Regions from separate parts of the Homo sapiens genome. Here region 2 is linked to region 1. Evidence: fine-mapped expression QTL. A gene starts in region 1. The other region holds a variant in brackets. All regions are shown on one strand. Distances are between the middles of the regions. Region 1 holds the start of SIAH2 (siah E3 ubiquitin protein ligase 2). Region 2 holds the start of LOC101928105 (a long non-coding RNA gene).

The links. PIP is the estimated chance that this variant, and not a neighbour inherited with it, causes the effect. A credible set is the group of variants that fine-mapping cannot tell apart.
Region 2: its variant is the best candidate, but not a certain one, in a credible set for the expression of SIAH2 in sun-exposed skin (GTEx, PIP 0.55).

The regions. Positions count from the first base shown.
Region 1 is chr3:150,757,519-150,768,372 of GRCh38, forward strand. It overlaps SIAH2 (siah E3 ubiquitin protein ligase 2), which reads right to left and starts at 5,651. Exons shown (of 2, transcript NM_005067.7): 1 at 4,915-5,651. The coding sequence starts at 5,331. SIAH2-AS1 (SIAH2 and CLRN1 antisense RNA 1) reads left to right here and starts at 4,419. Exons shown (of 3, transcript NR_187306.1): 1 at 4,419-4,462; 2 at 4,821-4,889. LOC124909447 (a long non-coding RNA gene) reads right to left here. Exons shown (of 2, transcript XR_007096132.1): 2 at 9,998-10,122. RefSeq lists enhancers at 1,912-1,971, 3,206-3,305, 5,122-6,068, 6,587-6,646 and a silencer at 5,177-6,076.
Region 2 is chr3:150,732,845-150,743,698 of GRCh38, forward strand. It overlaps SIAH2 (siah E3 ubiquitin protein ligase 2), which reads right to left. Exons shown (of 2, transcript NM_005067.7): 2 at 8,281-9,854. The coding sequence ends at 9,297. LOC101928105 (a long non-coding RNA gene) reads right to left here and starts at 6,141. Exons shown (of 3, transcript NR_121657.1): 1 at 6,007-6,141; 2 at 3,498-3,671; 3 at 1,627-2,020. RefSeq lists a cis regulatory region at 462-1,153 and a silencer at 8,023-8,102. The variant C/T (reference allele first, on the strand shown) is at 5,995.

The sequences.
Region 1 (10,854 bases):
GAGAACTTCCAGGCTCAAGGAATGCTTCTACAAGAGAATCAGATCAGAGGCTGCATGCTGGCAGCTGGAATTTGGCCTGGAGACGTGGTGGTTCGCTTTGTCTGCAAGTGGTGGTTATACATGTGAAGTCAGCCAATGCTAGAAAAAAAATCGAGATATTTAACATAAAAAAAAAATCCAGGCTGGGCACGGTGGCTCACACTTGTAATCCCAGCACTTTGGGGGGCCGAGATAGGAGGATTGCTTGAGCTCAGGAGTATCAAGACCAGCCTGGGCAACATAGTGAGATGACATCTCTTAAAGGAAAAAAAAAAGATCCAGATTTCTGGCTTTTCTTGAAAAAAATCTAAAGGTCTGATATGCCTGTACCCACATCCCCAACCCCACCAATCAGCCAGAGGTGAGTAAAGGCTGCCTCTTGGGAGGTGGCACCTGTTCTCTGGCTCTCCACCATCTCCACTGCTCCTCCAGGTCTCCCTGACCCTGAGGCCATGAGTGCATCAAATACTTCTCTCCTCTCCTCTCCTCTCATTACATGGCCCTCCTCCCATTTAGAAAGTTTGTCTCCACTGAACTAGATGAGGCCAAGGGATTTTAAACTTTCAACTGTTTTGTCTAACCTTACTTGGTTTTATGTTATTTTTTATTTTTTTAAGGAACACAGACATTGTCACAATTCAACCACAGAGAAGACTTGTCCAGCTGAGGCTTTCAAATTCAATAATTATTTGGAGATATGCTACTAGAAACTTTCAGAGAGGACAAAGAAAAGGTATCATTACAGTGTAAGAAGGCTGGAGTGGATTAGCATTGCTCACAGTTGTAGAGAGAAATACTTGGCTGATATCAAAATACATCGTTGGATGGTAAAGTAGACTATGTTGTTGATATGAATGTGTCAACCTTCACTTCTCCCCCTAAACCCACACACTGAAGGGGTGAGTTTAAGTCTGGGCACAGGATGTCAAAAGTTCTCAGGCATGGAACAAGCCACAGAATGGATTAAAAAATACCCCAAGCGGAAGAAAGCCATACACTATTAGACATTCCATTTTTTTTTTTTTTTTTTTGACACAGAGTCTTGCTCTGTCACCCAGGCTGGAGTGCAGTGGCACAATCTCAGCTCACTGCAACCTCCACCTCCTGGGTTCAAGCGATTCTCCTGCCGCAGCCTCCTGAGTAGCTGGGATTACAGGTGCCTGCCACCACACCTGGCTATTTTTTTTTTTTTTTTTTTTAATGAGACTGAGTTTCACTCTTGTTGCCCAGGCTGGAATGCAATGACGTGATCTTGGCTCACTGCAACCTCTGCCTCCCGGGTTCAAGCAATTCTCCTGCCTCAGTCTCCTGAGTAGCTGATATTACAGGCATGTGCCACCATGCCCAGCTAACTTTTTTGTATTTTTAGTAGAAACGGGGTTTCTCCATGTTGGTCAGGCTGGTCTCAAACTCCTGACCTCAGGTGATCCACCCACCTCAGCCTCCCAAAGTGCTGGGATTACAGACGTGAGCCACTGCGCCTGGCCCTAATTTTTGTATTTTTAGTAGAGACAGGGTTTCACTATGTTGTCCAGGCTGGTCTCGAACTCCTGACCTCAGGTGATCTGCTCACCTCTGCCTCCCAAAGTGCTGGGATTACAGGCATGAGTCACCACACCCAAAGATCTGAGCTAATAATGCATCCGGTTCCCCATATCAAAGGTGCTGGCAACACTCTAGCCTTTAATTAATTACCCTAAACCTAAGTGGGATAGTTATTTGGCAATACATCCATTTTTTTGCCAACTGAAGCAGTCCAGAGCTGTGATGATACCCCACAAAATACTAGGTTTGTAGGTTTCCCCCACCCTCCCATCTTCCTACCCTACATGCCCTACAAAATTCCTGCCAATGAATTTCATAGTGAGTATGTATGTTGTCATTTTGGGATGGTCCCATAAGAGGCCCATCTGGTGAACTCATCCAACCAGACGGTTTTGTTACTGGTGTCAACCTTGAGTTATGATTCAGAATCTTGAGTATACACTCAGATTCGAAATCCCTACGTAGTAAGGTGTAGGACAAAACATCTGTGCCTTTGAGATGCAGGTGCTTGGACTGGTCCTCTTACTAGCTGTGTGATTTGACAAGTCACTTCACATTTAACCACTCTGTAGGCATGAGTTTCCTCATCTGAAAAAAAAAAAAGGCAAACTAGTAAAAGCTGACCCCTGCAAAGTAACTGGCAGATAGAGGGCATCCAATAACATTCCAGATAGCCTCCCTTCTTTTCATAGAATGCTAGAAGCTACAGGTCCTTAGAAGTCAAGCAGATTCATCTCTCATTTGTATAGATGAGGAAATCAAGGCCCTGGGAGGTGGTCTTTCAGGCAAACAGTGGCAGCTCTTGAGATGTGGGCTCTGGTACTTTATTCAACGTTGGTTTTTTTCACATGAGCCAGCCCATGAGAGATTCTGAGAGCAGGTGGGGACAGTAAAAAGGCAGTCCCATAATTTCTAGGAGCCTCAAACTGTAGGCCAAAGGGCTAGGTAAACAGATCTGCCTTGTTTTAAGTTTGATACAGGCCTTACGGCTCTCTGTTGTTTCTCATCCTCTACAACTAACACATCTTGGTTGGTCGCTGGGCCTATGTATACATTCAAGTTTGGTTTATCCAGACTAACTGGCTGAGCTGCCCTGCCAATAGTTTGGATTATTGATCAACCAAAGGTGAGGGACACACACCCCAGCTTTATACAACTCACACACATGCACACACAAAAGCATCCCCAAGATCACATCCTAAGCTTGGTTCTTGGTCTGCAGGGGAATAATTGGCCCTTTTAAATTTCAGCTTGCAAAGTAATAGCTTTACCCCACTGCATTCTTATAGAATAGAGACTCAGAAAACCACTGACATGTACAGAAAGGCTGAGAACCCCTGATTCCCAGAACTACTCTTCAAGGTTGATTTCAGTAGCCTGTTTCACGTTAGGAAAGAACGTATGCTTTCATAGGAACCAGAGTTCTAGATCCTGAAAGTGAAACTTCATGCTCCATATAGCATAACTGTTTCCTTCCCTTTCTCTTGGGAACAACACAATTCTATTATGGTTACATTTTAAAAACAAATTATGGATTACTGACTAATATCAAATGCTCATTTGTGAACTAAAACTCACCTAAAAGCCATTTCTTTTGTTAGCCGCTGCGCGTTTAAGGGAAAGTAAAGGGGTGAGAAAATGGCTCCCCAGAAATCCTATGGGGCATCCCCCACCCCTGCAATATATCTCAAGCATCAAATAGCCACTCTATGTTAACTACCACCAAACCTTTTCCAACCACTAGGTTGTCACCTTTTTCACAACCCTAAGACAACTATGCAAATACTTTATCTAAATTTTGAGAAACTGGGCTGAGTGAATTAGTAAGCACTATATGAGGAGGGGTTAACAGCAATTTATTAAGGTTGCCTGAAACACCCTAGTCCAAACACCGATTCAAACTCTTATTTAAATATGCTATTTTAAACCTGATTTGCAGCAGGGCAGCAGACCAAATTAAAGCACTCATTTTACTGACCTGAGTCCCAAGCCTGAATTCTCTGGTGGATTATTTTTAATTTAAAAATGAGCTCTTGTCCTATAAAATAAGCAGCACCAAGGAGAAATGCAAGACAGCTTAAATGGCCCAAGAGGCAGCGCAAGTTACTTTTACAAAAAAACTGGAAAGTATTAGTGACATTATCTCCACTTCTAATTTCAGAAAATGACTTTACAGTATACTTCTAGGTTATAACGTAGACAAGTATGTCTGTGAAACTGCTCCTGAAGGTTTCCACGTAATAGCTGCAGGTAAACAAATGTTATAATATGACCACACAATGCAATACTATGCAGCCATTTAAAATACAATGAAGTCGACTAGGTTTCAGGCATAGAGAAATATGTGTGATAATATGAATTTAAGAACAGCAAGTTGCAGATGCCATTTTTGGAGAAAAACTTACATCTATGTGTGGGTATTAAAAAACCTCCCTGACATACACTGACATCTATGATTCTATATTTAGCTGCGAGGGTGTATGTATATATAGTTTAAAAAGATACACACTAAACCTAACAATGGTGGGAAAGGAGGGGAGAGATCTTGGTCTTTCATTTTACTTCTTGTCTTGGTGGCTTGCATTTTTCGCAAGGGCATTGAAAACTTTTTACATTAAATAAAAAATGAAGTGATGAGCTTTAAACAACTGTAACAACAGCTCTTGAGTGCCCTTGTTAATTTCTTGATTGACTGTTTTCACCCCACTTAGTACAACAACGCAGCCACAACTCCTCAGTCCTTCCCAGTCTTTGGAAGGCTAGGAGAGAAAAAGGCGTGGCTTGCAGGGTTTTCTTCTAGCTAGAGGAAAACAGGCTGTAGGCGCCCTTTTTTTAGCTACAATCCCGAGAGCTCCCACGTGTCAGGGGTGCGCAGACGGTAGGCGCGGGGTGCAGGACTCCAATTATCAATTCAGCCGAGCCCAGCGCTGGTAAAGGGGGCGTTTAGCTCGCCCGTTTCCTCCCTCCTCAATCCCCACACAGTCAGTTTCTCGGTCCAAGTTTTACTGGTGCGGCCCAGCCCTACCGAGAGTACCCGAATACACGTCTGCAGAGGACGCGGGCATTGGGCCGGGTGAGCTACGATGTTCTAACGATCAGCAAATGCCAATTAATCTGTTAATTGTCTATTAACAATTATTACTCGGTAAATGTCAACCCAGACCTACACCCAAAGTGGGCTTGAGGGAGGGTGGACGAAGTGTAAACATTTTTTCTTTTTTTTTTTTAAATGAGAGATGCCGCCCGCCTCTCCGGGCCTGCGAGTGGGCTGGCGGATACCGGAGTCCCTGAGGTCACCGGCGGAGGTACGTGGGCTGTCCCTGGGCTTACCTTACAGGGAAACAGGACTGCCGAGGCCACCTTCTCCATAGCCAGGTTCCTGATGCTGGGCGTCAGGGCGCCCCTGCACGTCGGGCAGCAGCTCAACTTCTGGCGGCATTGGTTACACACCAGGTGCCCGGCCTGGCACTGCAGAATAGGAGGCAGGACATAGTCAAAGCAGACCGGACACTCGAAGAGCGAGGTCAGCTCGTGGTGCTGCGGGGACACCGGGCCGGCCCCGCCGCCGCCGCCGGGGCCCGAGATCACCGCCGCCGCGGCGGGCACCGCGGACGAGCCGGGGCCCGCAGCCGAGATGGTGGCGGCGGCCGGGGGCGCAGCCGGGGACGGAGTGTGCTGGGGCTGCGGCGGCGGCTGCTTGCTGCAGGGTTTATTAGCGCTGGGGCCGGTGGAGGACGGGCGGCTCATCGCGCTCCGAACCAACCATGGAACTGCGGGCGCCTGCCTGCCGCGGGGCCGCCCGGGTCAAGGCGGTGCGCGCCCCGCGGGCAGCGAGCTCCGAGGCAACGCCACGGCGCCCAGCCCAGGTCCGGGCGGCGGAGACGCTCGGCGCCCGGCAGGCGGAGGGCTGGACCGCGCTGATGCACTCCGCAGCCCCCGGCGTTCCGAGCACGCCTCCGCGTCGGACCCCGCGCGGTGCCCTCCTCCCGGCGGCGTCCCGGGCCCCGAACCCCAGCGGTGCGCAGAGCCCTGGCCCACCCGCTTCTGGAACAGCCGCTGACGCAAGCCCCGGGGGCGCGCGCGGACGTGACGCCTGGACACGTGTGCGGCCGCCCAGGCGCGCGGGGACTGGCAGAGCCACCCTGCGCCGGGGCGCTGGCTCCGCCCGGCTCCAGCTGGCAGCGCAGGGGGCCGCCTAGCGCCGGCGCTTCCTGCTCGGGCTGCGGGCCGGGCCTGCGCCAGTGAGCATGCCTGGCTCGCTGCAGCCCCGCGGGGTTGTCTTTTCTGGGTTGAGGAGGGGGGCTACTCTCGGGGAAGCGTCGCCGAAGTCCTCTGGCCACACCCCGGGGTGCCTGGCTGACGCGTCCCTCAGCTCAAACGAGAAAGGCAACTTCAGGCGGGGCGGGAGCGTGGACGGTGGGTGGGACCGGACGCGGGCGGGCAGGGGCGGGGCGCGGGCGCCCCTGCACTAGTCGGAAAAAACCGAGAGGTTTCTCTTCTCAGGGCTGAGTCACCAGCACGCAGGAGAAGAGGGCGAAGCGGCCACCCGCGTTCTGTGTTCGGAGTCAGGACGAGAAGCATTGGGTGGGAGCAGGGCGAGGGGCTCGAGTTGGGTCTGCAGCGGGCACAGGACCTAGTTTTGTACAGTTAACGGTGGGGTTGAGTAAAGAGGGGGGCGGTGGGGAGGATGTAAGCTCCCTTTATTCCTTTCCCAGCGGACCAGGAGGAAGCTTCGTTGAATTGAGCGCCCCTGGCTCGTATAGCAGGCCGAGGAGGGAGCTCATGGGCAGCGTTGGCTAAGAGTTCGAGATCATCTAGAAATGTCAGAAACGTAGGTTGGGTCGTGAGGTCTCTGAAGACAGTGGGTGAAACTCCAGTGTAAGGCGCTGCGTCCGCTTGGTAGAGAGCCGGCCGAAGTCCGAGTCTTTGTTGCGAGGCGTAGGGCCACCCTGCGCGCCCAGCAGAAGCGCTAGAGGGCACGGTTGCCCGGGGTGAACCGCATGTCCAAATGTAACTGTGTGCTCCGAGTTAAAATTGTTTTTCTGCAGACTTTGCTTGAGCCAACGATTCCGGAATTGGGGAAAGGGTTACCTTAGGTAGAAATCGGAAATTTATAGGAGACACAGAGGTAAGGACCAACTGTTAGGACTGAGTGAAAAATGGTTCCCTCCAACTGTAAAAGTGGAAAAAAAAATACCTATCTTATAGGTGGGGCAGTGAGGAGTAAATGAGTTTAATATATTTCAAGCTTTTAAAACAACCTCGCCCATCATAAGCACTGTTTAAACATTAGCTCTTATCTTTTAAAAATATTAGTGGATGTTTAAAATGAATGAATACAATTTGTCCAAGAAATATGGCGTAAGAGCCCAGAAGAAATAAAGTTTAATCTTACAAAGGGCTTCTGTAGAAAGAATACATGCATGGAATTGATGGAATTTGGTATAAATCTTGAAAAAACTTAATAGGTGTATTCAATCGTTCAGTAAATGTTTCCTGAGCATTTATCATGTGTCAGCTACTGTTGGAGCTCTGAGAATGGTTCTCATGCAGTTTACATTCTAGTAAGAGAGCAAGGCCCAATAACCAAGCACTCGTGGGAGAAGAAGGATTTCAGATACCACGGGGTGGGCAGGCATTATAGCAGGAGCTAAAAAGCACAGAGTGAAAGCATGTATTCTGGGATTGCATTGGGACTTGGAGGGGATATAACGGGAGTGTAGGGGTGTGGCGTTAGCACAAGGGGAGCCTCAACTGGCTTAATAAGACATTTACCTCAATGATAGGGGTAAACCACTGTAGGGTTTTGTTTGTTTTTTTAAGAACACACAACAACACTAGGTTTTGTAGGTTTTTGGAAGCTCTTTAGTAACATGGCTGAACCTGAGTTTTTGGATAGGTAGGGAGCATAAAATAATAACTAATGTTAATTGAGTGCCCACTGTATGTTGGGCATGGATAGTTTTAAGTATTTATCATAACTCTCTGTGATGAATACTACTGTTATCTCCATTTTACAGTTGAGGAAACCGAGACATAGGTTACTTTGCTCAAGATCACACAGCTGAGAATGTGGGAACACGCTAGGAGCCCTTCTTAACTACTAGTCTGTATGCCTCTAAATTATGCCTGATTCCTACTTACAGTCTTGTTAAACAGTTAAGATTAGCACACTCAACAGAGTCAGAAAACAGTTGTTCAGCCTATAATAAAGCACTAAATTTTGTGGGCAAACTTTACATAAACTCTTTCCTTAGCTGGTCTAGAGAGAAAAATTAAATCATGTTCTATTTATTTCATTTTCACCTTTTTATGACACAAAATATAAGTGATAACACAAAAATCACCTACTGTTTTACTGTTATTGGAGGAAATGTAATATTTTTCATTCTTAATTTAAAATCAAAGCATTTGGAATTTATTAATGGAACACATTTTCTTTCCTTCCACTTCTAGCCTCTCTGTGTGATGACCTCCATCCCCACGGCTTCTTACTAGCTCTCATTAGGAGACTGGAGTCCTCACCCTTGCCCCATTGACACGAGCTTTAAGTGTTCCAGCTAGATAGGCCCTGGTCATTCAGAAAACAATTTGGTTTGGGAGGTGTTGAAAGAAATAACAGGAAAAGCAATTCTCTGCAGAGAGAATTTGGTTTATTTTTCTAAAAATACAGCGAACCCATCCACTCTTACCCTGGCAGATGCCTCCCCTGGTATAGAGAAATTTCTTCTTTCTTCCTCCTTCACATCATTGCACACCTGATTAAGTCAACCAGGGTAATTAAAATACAAAAGCAAAACAAAAAAACTCTGGGCAGTTGCTGAAGGTAGGCAGGGGGAGAGTGGATAGGTCTGCTATGTGAGCCACATCAATGACCAGGCTGGTCTTCCCAGTCGCCTTTCTTCTTCCTCCTTCCTTGGTGACTTTTGAAACAAAGAAAGGTGACCTTTGCATACCGGGCACTATGAGCTAGAGCCTCCTCTTCCAGCGGGCAGTCCGCTCAGAGGTCGAATTTAGCGTGTACTCAAAATGTGTGCTGAGTTGAGTTGTTGGGAGGTTTATTTACCCTTTGGAGTGTCGCTGCTGCTTCTTGGCCTGTTTAGTGAGTGACTTTGTGGTCTGGGGGAGCAGGGTCCAGCCTTTTGTTATCTCCTGATTCATGACTCATTTACCACATCTACTGTATGAGAGGTTGGTCTCATTCGCCCACCTACTGAGTCCCAGATTGCATATGTCAAGCAGGACACCTCTCCTTAACCCATCTGCTCTATGCTAAGCTTGAAAGACTAGGGGTGTACTGAGTAGCCTTTTCTTTCCTTAAAATAGCAGGGTGAGTCTTAAAAAAAACACCTCACAGGTGAGTTCCTAATTTCACTAAACTGCTGAGCACAGTGAGAAATGCTCCAGCTAGGCAGACAAGCTCTTGCCCTTTTTTCTGTAACTTACAAATTGTGTGGTTTTGCAAATCAGGCAACTTCTGCCATCAGGCAAATGTGCATTTGCAGAGCAAATTGTGGTTGGCTTTTTAGAGATGACTCAGGTATGCATTGGAGCTTGCTGCATGGAAATTCCTCATCAGGGGAAGCTTGTGGGAAATCTGGAGGTGATGTAAGGCCCCCTGGTAATTATAGTAGGAACTTTTAACTTCATCTGTTTCTGGGGTAATTTCCAAATGCTCAAACTTCTTTTGAATAATTGTAGGTCTCTTAATTCAAATCTTTTTTTTTTTTTTTGAGACAGGGTCTCACTCTGTCACCTAGGCTTAATGCAGTGGCTGGATCATGGCTGACTGCAGCCTCAACCTCCCAGGCTCAAAGGATCCTCCTGAGTAGCTGGGACTACAGGCACGTGCCATCACGCCCTGCTAGTTTTTTAGTTTTTGTAGAGAAGAGGTCTCACTGTGTTGCCGAGGCTGGCCTCAAACTCCTATACTCAAGTACTCCTAATTCAAGCATTTTTTTGAACAACCATCATGGACTTAGCACTGTGTACTAAGAGCAGTTCTATGTATTTGCATTATTTTTGTATCCACACTTAGCTAATTAGTGCTCACCCTGTACCAGGGAGTGTTCCAAGTACTTTACATATTTTAATTCTCTTAATTCTCACAATGTCTTTTATAGGGTAGATCTTTATAGATGACAAAACAGGTACAGAGAGGCCAAGAGAGTTGTAGGAAGTCATCATTAAGAAGGCTCCCAGGGATCCCTCCTCCTGGTGTCGCCCAATATGTAACACCTTTCCTGTGAATGAGGGCTGATCCTGCTTTAAGTGAACAGAATATGGTCAAAGTGATAGAATGTCACTTCTGAGATTAGGTTAAAAAAGACTATGAATTCTGTCTTACTGTCCCTCCGTTCCTCTCGCTTGCTGTCTTAGCTCGAGCTGCTATAATAAAATATCATAAACTGGGTGGTTTAAATAACAAACATTTATTTCTCACAGTTGTGGAGGACGGGGAGACCAAGGTCAAGGTGCCACAGGTGTCTAGCGATGGCTTGCTTCCTGGTTTGTAGATGGCAGCCTTCTCACTGTGTCCTTACGTAGCAGAGATAGGAAGGAAGCTCCCTCAGGACTCTTCTAAGGATACCAACCCTCTCCATGAGGGCTACACCCTTAGCACCTCCTGTAATCCTGATTACCTCCCAAAGACCCTGCCTGCTAATATCATCACATTAGGGAGTACAGTTTCAATATGTGAATTTTGAGGGGACACAAGTATTCAGTCTGTAACACTCTCTGAGCCCTCTCTGTGGATGAAGCCAGCTACCATGTTGGGAGTAGCTCTGCTAAACGGTCCACGTGGCAAGGAACTGATGTCTCTGGCCAACAGCTAGTGAGAACCCTGGGCTTGCCAACAGTGAGTGAGTTTGGAAGTGGATTCTCTCAGCCGAGCCTTGTGATGATTGCAACCCTGGCTCACAAGTGATTGTGCCTGTGACACCTTGAACTAGAGGACTCAGCTGAGTTGAACACAGAAACTGTGAGATAATGAATATGTGCTGTTTTTATTTTTATCTTTATTTTTAGAGATAGGGTCTTACTATGTTGCCCAGGCTGGAGTGCGGTGGCCATTCTCAGACACAATCATAGTGCATTACAGCCTGGAACTCCCAGGCTGAAGCAATCCTCCTGCCTCCGCCTCCCAAGTTGCTGGGACTACAGGTGTGTGCCACTGCACCTGGCTTCAGTGTTTGTTGTTTTAAGCCATGAAGTTTTGGGATCATTTGTTACTCAGCAATATATAACTAATACACCTGTCCCAGGTCA
Region 2 (10,854 bases), 25 kb before region 1:
TCGTTATATTATTCTCCTTCCTTTTGAAAATTTACTAATAAAATGTTTTTTTAAAAGTTATACATCTTGGCTGGGTGCAGTGGTTCACGCCTGTAATCTCAGCAGTTTGGGAGGCTGAGGCGGGTGGATTGCTTGAGGTCAGGAGTTCAAGATCACCCTGGCCAACATGGTGAAACCCTGTATTTACTAAAAATACAAAAATTAGCCGGGCATGGTGGCAGGTGCCTGTAATTCCAGCTACTCGGAGGCTGAGGCAGGAGAATCGCTTGAACCCGGGAGGCGGAGGTTGCAGTGAGCTAAGATGGCACCACTGCACCCCAGCCTGGGCAACAGAGAGAGACTCCATCTCAAAAAAAAAAAAAAAGTTATACATCTTGACAGCAATAATCATAAAATTAAGCAAAATTAGAAGGAGGGAGAAACTTTGTGTGTTACTTTCTTCAATTTTGGTGGTGGGAGTGAATAAATATGGTCTAAAATTGAAAAAAAAAGTGATAAGAAGAATTAATTGTGAAGGCACAGCAGGCTGTCTCCAAGATGCCTCAAAGCAGGAAATGGAGTGTTTCTGGGCTCCCTGGGGAGGGATTAGGACCTGGCAGGGTGGGCGGCAGTGGCTGCTCCCTCCACCCCTAGGGGCCTCTTGCTATCAAGGCTTTTCCTTTGCTAGTGTGCTGACTTTCCAGGGCTGTGTGACTCTGGTGCACACCACTGACTGTCTTTGACTCTCTCAAGAGAATCTGACTGGTGGCTGCTCAGCCAATGAACCGCTGGCCTGGGTAAGGTCTTATCAGCTGTGGCCTGCATTACAAGTTTGTGGGTGTGTGAATTAGTGGGGGGTTTGCATGGGGTGTTCCAGGAACTATGGGCAGGGCAAATTCTCTAGAAGAAGTAGTTTTTATTGTGGACAGGGTTCGTCCTGAAATTTAGCTAGTATGAGGATGGGTTAAAGGATAGATTAGAATTAGGGACCAGACAAGACACTGCTGAACTTTGATATTCACTCGGCACGTTCTACGTGTCTGACCTTGTGTGGGTGTCAGGAACGCGGGAACAAAGGAAGTGTGAGAGAAGAATAGCCCTGAGAAGTGGATGGGAGGTGGACAAGGCTGGACTTAGGCATTGAGTGGTTTGGTCTTGATCCAGGAGAGGCTGATCTCTTGGCACATCCTCCTAACTACCTCAGCCTTGCAAAAACCTACCCAACACCCAAGGCCCAATGCACGCGCTGCTTTCTCCCGGAAGCCTTTTCCAATCCTCTTTTGAACTCCATAGCAATTTGTACGTCCTTGTCTTAACTTGCTTTGCAAACATAGTTGATGTAGTTGTGGTTGCATATTTCATGCTACTGTAAGTTGCCTCTTTGTTTGATGCTTTCAGACTTCTGCTAGACTGTAAAGTCCATATCTGAGTCACTTTTGCAGGCAGCAGGGCTGTTGGAAGGGCTACATTCCTGAGTGTAAATCCCATTTTCACTGCTTACAAGCTGTGTGACTTTGGGCAAGTTACTTAGCCTCTCTGAGCCCCCACCTTCTTGTTTGTTAATGGGAGTGATAATACCCACCTCAAGGTGTTTTGTTTTGAAAATTAAACCATATCAAGGATATAAAGTACAGGACCAAGCACAGGGCAGTTGATTGGTGTGTATTGAATTGAGGAGGAATAACTCGGATCTTGAGGGATGAGCAGCATTAGCATAGTGGGCGAGATAAGGGAAAGGGAAGGGCATGCTCCAAGCTGTTCTCTTCAGTCCCTCCAGGGGAGGGGGCAGCGTGCGGGGCCACACTCTGGACAGGGCAGCTACTCCTCACATTGTCAGCAGAAGCCACTGCAGTTCTAGGACTCAGGCAGCCACACTCTTGTCCAGTGTAATGGAAACTGCCTTCTGAGCTGCATGCACCCTTACTTGATATCAATGTACCAGGGACTCGGATCTGTAACTAGAACAGCACTTACAGCTTGTCTCTCAGGGAAATGGTGTTGGATGGTCCTCAGGAATATTTCTTCCAGGTTTTCATGGAACCTAGAAAAACACCACAGCTTGCTAAGGTGTAAACCTCTCAGATGCCTGGGATGTTCTAGACTGAGCTGCAGCCAGTGCCTTTCTCCTGTTCAGGGCTGGATATGCACAGACGCCCTCACCAGGGCCTTCTAAACATAATTTGCTTCAACCCTTGCTTGTTGGCACAATTTTTTTCCCACCTCTCTCTATTTCAATAATGGCTGCTTCCTGACCATCTCTACTGCATAAGTAAGTAATCTGCCCTGGAAACTTGTCTTTCTGATTACTTTGCCCCCGCTGTGATTGCCTCCTTCTCCACATCATCCATTTCGCTCTCTCTTTTGGATCCTTCCCATTGGCACAGTGCCATGCTCTAGTGGCTCCAATTTTTAAAACACAAAAAAATCTTTCATTGATCCCACTATTCTCCTGCAGCAACTGCTTCATTTCTCTACGTCTTCTCTGCGGAACTTCTTAAAAGCCTTGTCTATAGCAACTTGTCTATAGCTCTATAGCTATAGCTCCTGCCTCCTCTCCTCACCCATGCCCTGTTCTCTCCCTCACCTGCTCTCCTCTGGGCTTCTGTCTTCTCCACTCCATGAGACTGCTCTTGACATCTTGCCATGACCTCGATTGTCTTCTCAGTGGCTAACTCCTCTGTTCTACTTGAGCCAGATTTTTTTCCTGGGGTTCTGTGATGCCGTACTGTCTAGGAGTTCCCCTCATCTTGATGGCCACTTCTTCTATCCACCCTCATTTCCAGGCTCTGGCTCCTCATGTGACCTCTAAAAGGTTGGCAGTCCCAGGAGATAGGCCTGAGTCCCACCCTCTTTTCTGCCTGTATGCACCTCCCTCCATTGCCCAAACCCCGGGGTCTTCTCACTTCCACCCCACAGCTTAAACACCATACATATAGTGATGGTGCACACATTTTGGTATTTCCATCCTGGCCTTTCCTCAGAGCTCCAAGCTCATACAAACAACTGTCTGGTTGATGTCTTCAGCCATGTGTCTCTCTAGATTTCTGCCCTATGCTGGCTCCTTCACTAGTCTCTGCCCCAATACATGGAACTTCTTACCCATTTACTCAGGATGAGAGCCTAGGAGTGATCATCCTTGATTCTCTCTTTTCCTTATTCCTATAATCATCACCCCTCTCCCACCCATCCAACTTTTTAGCAACTCCTGTTAACTCTACCTTGAAAACATAGCCCAAATATGCCCATTTCTGTTAATCTCTACCTTTGCTCACTCTGTCCAAGCCATAATTATCTTTCACTGGGTGAAATGCAATAGCTTCCAAAATGCTTCCATTCCTGCCCTTTATAATCATTGTTTTTGTTGTTTTGTTTTGTTTTAATTGAACAGCTACAGCTCTTTTTAAAAACCCGAATCCCATCATCCATGCTCCTTGAAACTTTCCAGTGGCCTCCCATTGTACCTGGAAAGAAAGCCAGACCCCTAGCTGGCCTCACAGGGCAAGGCTCTAGCTCCTTACCTGCCTCACCTCAAAGCATTTTCCCTGCTGGTTCTGCCTCAGGCCTCTGCACTTGCTGTTCCTTTCTTGCTGCAATGCTTCCCTCCAGGTGGTTTTTACATTCACTTGCATTCCTCAGCCTTCCCTGGTTATTCAATCTACAGTATTGGCAGGTGACATCACTTGTCTCAGCGGCTGTATGAGAAATACAAGAGAAAATGAGGCAGTGAGGTTGGACTGGGTCAGAGGTTCTCAACCCTGACTGTGTGCTGGTCCCTTCTGGGAAGCTTTAAAAAGCACACAGAAGCTCAGCCTTACTGCCAAGAATTCTAACTTAGGTCCTGGCATTCTTTAAAGTTCCCCACATGATTCCAAAGGACGTGTGGGGTGATAACCTTTGATCCAACCAGTGCTTCCCAAACTTGAACATGCATCCACATCACCTGCATACTGTGTTAAAATGCGGATTCTGGTCAGGAGGTCTGGGGTGGAGGCTGAGATGCTGCATTTCTGACAAGTTCCCAGGTGATGCTGATGCCGCTGGTGCACGGACCACACTTTAACTAGTGAGGGTCTGAACGATTTCTAGGTCTCCATCCCCTTCTAGCATGCCATGACAGTGGGGAAGGCAGTTCCAAAGCACAGGTGGTATGTTCTGTATTCACCAAGCATCCTGCACCCCTCCATCTTGTTCATCTTTATCTGTTACAAGTAAGCAATATTTCTGCTGATGGTCAAAATATGTGAAAGCCAAATAAGAATAATGATGGATCACGTGATATGGTGAAGGGGCATGGACTCCACGATGGGTTCATATTCCAATTCTGTTTCTTACCAGCTGTGTGAGTGTAGGCAAATTACTTAATCTCTCTGAGCCTTCATTTCCTCGACTCCAAAATGGGGATAATAAACACTGCTTATTTTATTGAGAGGATTAAATGGGTTAATACAGACAAAGCACTTTGCACACGATAGGTACCTAATGGATGGCAACTGCTGTGATCTTGGTGTACTTTGCAAATTGATCTAATCTTGTAATCCAATTGCTGCAGGTCACAGGAACCTTGATCTGTGCTTGCTGCAAGGATCATCAAACATAGAGCGGAGTCGGCCTTTGATCTGAATGTCAGGTGACTCCATGACATAAGAAATTTCAAGGCACAGAAACTTCAAACCAGCCTTAGTGACCTTGCCTGGAGGATGACAGGGGCAGAGAAACCCTTTGTTTCTTCCCTTCTCTGGATTGTTAGATTATCTCCCCATCTCTGTTCCCTGCCTACTTGCGTAATTTCCCCAGGGACTTTTGGTACAAAACCAGAAAACCTTAACTCTTAAAGTGTTGACTTCAATGCTGCTCTCACACTAGCCTGTTAGTAGTTATTTATTCATTCAGATATTAATTGGGTGCCTAGGTGCCAGGGACTTCATTGTCTCTATTACCCTGCAGGTTGTCAAGGGGAGGCAGGCGCTGAACAATAAAAAAAAATATGTAATCACAATTGTGGTGCCATGAAGGAAAAGAAATAGGGTGCACCGCAAGAGAATATTGAAGAGCTGTGATGCCAATGATTTTCATGTCAAAAGAGCCTCTGCCTATGTGTAGAATACATTGGAGCAGGCAGGAAGAAGGAGGACAAACAGTTAGGAGCCCCAACAGTGGTCCTGGCCCAGATGGTGGCAATGGAAATGGGGAATCAAGACTGGGAGCCACTTCCCTTAGTCATGGTAAAATGTTGGCTTGTACTTTAAGCTGTTTTGTAATTTTTTCCCTTTTACTCAATACAGAAGACACCATGTCATCATCACAGAAAATTCTAATCAGCAGTGTGGTTTGGGGCCAGTGTGTTTCCCTCTGTAGGTCTTACTTGTTTATTCTGTAAAATGGTAGTGGTGGTGGGTGTTGGTGTCAATGGGATCAAGGTTCTTTCTGCTTGTCATTTGAAGACTCCAAGACACATTAACGGTATTCACAAATAAGAGATTTTAAGCTTCAAATTAGAAGAAGGTTTAACAATATGGGGAATTAGATTTCTCCCTTTAAGCACTCTTGCCTCCCTTTCACAGGTCAGTGAAATTATAATCATACTTTCAAGCACAGCCTGCATGAATCAGGAAGGTTCAAGGCCACAGGCCTCTCAAGCCAGAGCCACAAAGCAAAACTGGTCTCTCTACCCAGGCACCACCCCTAGCTCTAAACCATGGGAATCTGAGAGGTAGCTGGAGCATGACTCACCTGCCAACACTGATAGACAGACACATGCTGGGCCACAGTGATACCAGAACCACCTCGTACAAAGGCTGGCAGGAATGATTTACATACCTCAACCTAACATTGAATAGCTTGATTGTCTCACAGAAATTAGTACTAAAGTAAAAACGTTTAGAAAATAAACCTTCAAATGTTGCAGATTAGGAAACTTAAGACCAGAGATGTCAACTGACCAAGTTAAGGTCACATTGCTGGCTATTTGGCAAGCCCCAAGAACCTGAATGAAGTTAGATACAAGGAGAATTTCTT[C/T]AGGAAAATTACTTTGGGTGGTATTGTAAAGGAGTTGCTTGATGCTGCTAAAAAAGACACTCAGCCATTAGTTTGGATGTGTCAGTTGAGGCCGAGGTTCTAGTTGGCAGAGTTCCAAGATAGTTGATGCTTCGGTGCCTCTTCTCCGAAGTATTTCCCATAATCCCCTGGACAGTTCCCTCTAAGAACTCCACTGTCTCAATCCTTTAAGTCTTCTGGATTCAGGGAAACCAAGACCAGTTCCTCCTTACAAGAACGCTGGGAACCCCTAATCTCAAGGTTGGTTGGTTTTTTGAAAAAAATTAAAAACGTAGAACAATGCAATTAATAATATACCATATACCCAGGTTCTAGGCACCCAGAATTAATGACTGTTAACATTTTCTCCCAAGGTATTTTGAGAACCCTTTTTTCTTTAGAATGACTCATGCGTCATAAGACACAGGCTTAATCTACCATCGTTTAATCGCCAGATTACCAAATTAGAATATTGAACTAGGACAGGAAAGATAAAATATTCTTATTTTATTTTTTAAAATATGGTACTTAAGTGGACCACGTGATGAGTTTTGACAAATGCCTATCATTACTTTTCTTTTTTTTTCTCACTTTTTTTAAAAGCAACAAGTCAAGGAATATACTCATCATGTTTTAAATTGCATTTGCAATTGGAACTGCATAAAAAGGCATTTTAATTTACATAATCTTTTTCTGCTGTTTTCACTTCCTGTTAAAACGGAATAACCTGGGGATTTTTATTTTCTGGTAGAAAATGCACAGTTTCAAGAAAGTCAAGAGTAAAGGTTAAGTTTACAGATTTCCAGTGACAGAGATGAAAGGGAACTACGTAACTCTGGAAAATAAAAGTTCAGAGTTGCGTTGCTTACAACTTTTTCATTTGTTAAGTTCTAGGAGCAAGTTTGAATGGGGAATCAAGAAGCCTGAATTATAGAACCAGTGCTGCCAGTAATGCACTGTGTGGCTGCTGGCCCATCACTTTACCTTTTTGGGCTAAAACTCTTTTTGTGCTTTTGGAATAACTTGTGTCCACTTTCTCCTTCTTTATGTCTTTTGTTTATAGGTTTGCGTTTTATGCACTGTTAACCAATCAGTCCTGATTCCTCTACCACACGTAGTAAGAGGGTAAGCCGTGGACATGAAGTGATGCTGCCAAGCTTGGCTAGTGTATGCACACTGCACCTTGCATGGGTGCCGTGAGGGCCCTGGAGGCCATATCTGGACTGGCTCTGGTCCTGAGGGTCAGAGTTCATCTGCTCCTGGATCCTAGTTTCACCTTCATAGGTTCCTCTGTATATGGACTTGAAATGTGACTTTCTTAGTGATAAGAGTTGTGGTTTTTATTCATTCACCACAGATGTTGTAAACCCCTACTTTTGTGTAGGGCACCGTTTTTCACTTTTACAGAAGAGGTTACTTTAGCAATTCTTTAAATGTCAGAGCCCTGTGCTGGCTAAAAACTCAACGCTGTATCTCACTTAAAAAACAAAATCAACTCCAAAGCCATCACCTCCATTTGGTAGTATGCTAATGAAATTGGGACACTGAGGGCTGGGTGTGGTGGCTCATGCCTTAATCCCAGCACTTTGGGAGGCCGAGGCAAGTGGATCACTTGAGGTCAGGAGTTCGAGACCAGTCTGGCCTCATCTCTACTAAAAATACAAAGATTAGCTGGGTGTGGTGGCATAGGCCTCTAGTCCCACTTACTTGGGAGGCTGAGGCAGGAGAATTGTTTGAACCTAGAGGCAGAGATTGCAGTGAGTGCCATTGCACTCCAGCCTCTGTCTCAAAAAAAAAAAAAAAAAAAAAGAAAGAAATTGGGACACTGAGGTAAGCAGCCTTCAATCCTTGCTGAGCATTTGGCCCTAATCCTCTAAATTCTTTTGAGAGTTTAGGGTTGGGACTGAGGGAGTGGGTCAGCTTGGATCAACGCCAGCACTCTGGATGTCAGCAGTGGCCAAGCGTCTTCCTTCTGACTCTGTAAAGCTGGAGCAATCCTCTTATTGCACAGGTACTGGCACTGTCAGATAGAAACGACAGCCCTGGGAGGAGACCTGCAGCACTGACAGTCAGTGGTTCAGACACATGAGCCCGGACCCCAGTGCTGTCATGGACCCGTGCCATGACCTTGGCCCAATGACTGTTTCCACAGTGGAAACAAACAGTGAAAGTTCCAACCCCAGATGTAGTGACGAAGGTTCATTGCACTTGCACACAGTAGATGCTCAATAAATACCCATTACTCAATTAGGGAAATGAAGCACAATATCCATTTTTGGAAAATATTTATTAAAAAACTAGTGAATGTGGCAGAAAAACAAAACCAACACACAGCTTTAAATAGCAAGCATATGACACACCGGTTATAAAGCTTTTCCAACTCTACTGATTTAGTCTTTCACACCAGCTACTGTTGAGGAGGGCTTCCGAGGGAAGCCACGTGTAAACGGGTCATCTGTACTAGTGGTGAGCAAAACTAATTACATGAGAACTATCAATGGCCATATGACTTGCTTTCCTAGGCAATCCACCCAAAACATAGGTGAGTGGCCAAATCTCAGGCGTGCGTTCATGTGGATCTATAGTTCTAGTTTTAATTTGAGGGTTGGGGGAAGTTAGGGGATGAAACAGTAGAAAGACAAACAGTATCGGCAGAGGGCAACCTTAAAGCACCTTTAAAATCTGGACCCTTTCCCACAATTTAACCCAGTAATTCTCAAACATTACTGTTGAAAAGAATCACCTGATGAGACTGTTAAATTGGCAGGCTCCCTAAATCTGCAATTTTAAGATAAGCACTCCGGGTGATTCAGTGTCTATTAGCCAGCCATCCAATTTCAGAAACACTGTTTAAAATGCATTAAAACAATTCCTACCTCCCACAAACAAAAGTAAAGGAATCTGCTGACAGTCACTGTGCTTTTGTCAATGTCAAGGGACCAATATGGGAAGGCAGGCAGGAAGGGGCCTCCCATTCCTAACACACTGATCTATAGAAGCCCTGTGCAACAGCCTGTCAAGTGTTGTTTAGGGAGTAAATACAATTCAATAAGAGTTGTTTTAGATCACAGAACAGCATCCAAATCACCAACAGGCCAACCCCATTCATCCCAGGTTAATGAACTTTGTTGGGTCGAAGCCAGATGGGACACTGCTGTTCAAACAAAACACGGGTAATTGTGGGTCCTGACTTGTGAAGACATATGGAATAAAACATCTATAAAAACCTTTATTAAACATAGAGCACTATGCCCAAATAATTTTGAAGGTTTACGAAAGTCACATCATGGACAACATGTAGAAATAGTAACATTGATTCCAAGGTTCCCATTATCTGCAAAAAGATGTGCTATGGCTGTGTCGAAAACAAGGCAGTCGCTGTTCATGATGGCCGCAGCCACACCGTCATGAATCGAACGGGGCGTGGCCTCCCAGGTCAATCTCCGCCGGTTCCCATTCAACTCCAGTCTGTAGGCAAAGTTCTCGGCTTGCTTGCGGGTGCCAATGAGCAGGACGATGGCAAAAAACTGCTGGTGGCCTTCGTACTTCTCTTGTTTCTCCAGCACCAGCATGAAGTGATGGCCAAAACATGACTGCATCATCACCCAGTCGACAGCCCCTGGCAAGTTAATGTCTGTAGCTAGAAAGACGATGTCTTCTCCCTGAAGGGTGGTAATGCTCTTGTGGGCGTGCATGAGATGGGACATCACAGCTTCCAGGGACCCCTGCCACTTGCAGGAAGCACCAGGACATGGGCAGGAGTAGGGACGGTATTCACATATGTCTTCATGTTCTGGTTTCTCCGTATGGTGCAGGGTCAGGGAACAGCCCGTGGTGGCATACTGCAAAGAAAGAAATGCATTGAGCCATTGGGCCTTCTCAAAACTTCTATTGCTTCAACCCTCTATGAGTACTTAACTACTCCATTTTCCTGGGCTTAAACTGTGTTCTTAACTACTTTTGCTCAAAGCAAGTGAAATATTCAAGACTAAAAGTCTCCGTCTCTATTCATCATCAATGCTGTCATGCATAAAATGAAGGGTATTTCCTGAACCAGAAATACGCTGTTTTCCATGCCCCCTGTTCCGCTGTCAAAGGGATCAGAACTAAAGTTCTCTTACTGTGCACATCTCAAAATTGTTGAGCAAGCCCTATAAAAGCTGGTCTTCCCCATATTTTCTGTGAAGCTGTTTTTTAAAGAATTCAATTGCTTGGGTGGTGGGGATGGGGTTGGGCAAGGAATATTATATTATCCCAAGATTAGTTTTCACATATAGACAATATTAACAACAGTATAATTCTGTCGTCCCCCTCCACTGCTTTCTGGCTCAAACTGGTGACTGGCAGGCAGGCCGTGGGGAAGGCTGCCCTTTGGTTCCTTGCTCTTTGCTGCTGGCATCACCAGGCTAGGGCAGCGGAGGCCTGGAGACCCCTTCATACAGCTAGAAATATTACCCCACTGCATCCTTTTGACCTTCCCTCTGGGGGGCTTTGCCCATATTTTTTGGGTGGAAGGAAATCACATCCAAGAGCTACTTAACTAACTCAGAAGACTACTGGTCAGTCTGGTTCTGGCCAGTAGAGGTTAACATGAGAAGGGCCTAACCCTCCTCTCAAAGCTTGCTGACCCCCAACACTTCCTCAGATTCAAGAGCACATCATTTCATGGTCAGGTATGTCAGGTCCTCACAACAGGCCCGGGAGGAAGCAGAACTAGACAAGTTTGCTGACATGATCAGTCTGCCCCTCAGACACTGCCTTAATAGGGTAGGAGAACAAAATCATTTTCTCCCTTGCACTTGGGATGACATTCCTAATGGATAAATCATACCTGCCGTGGCA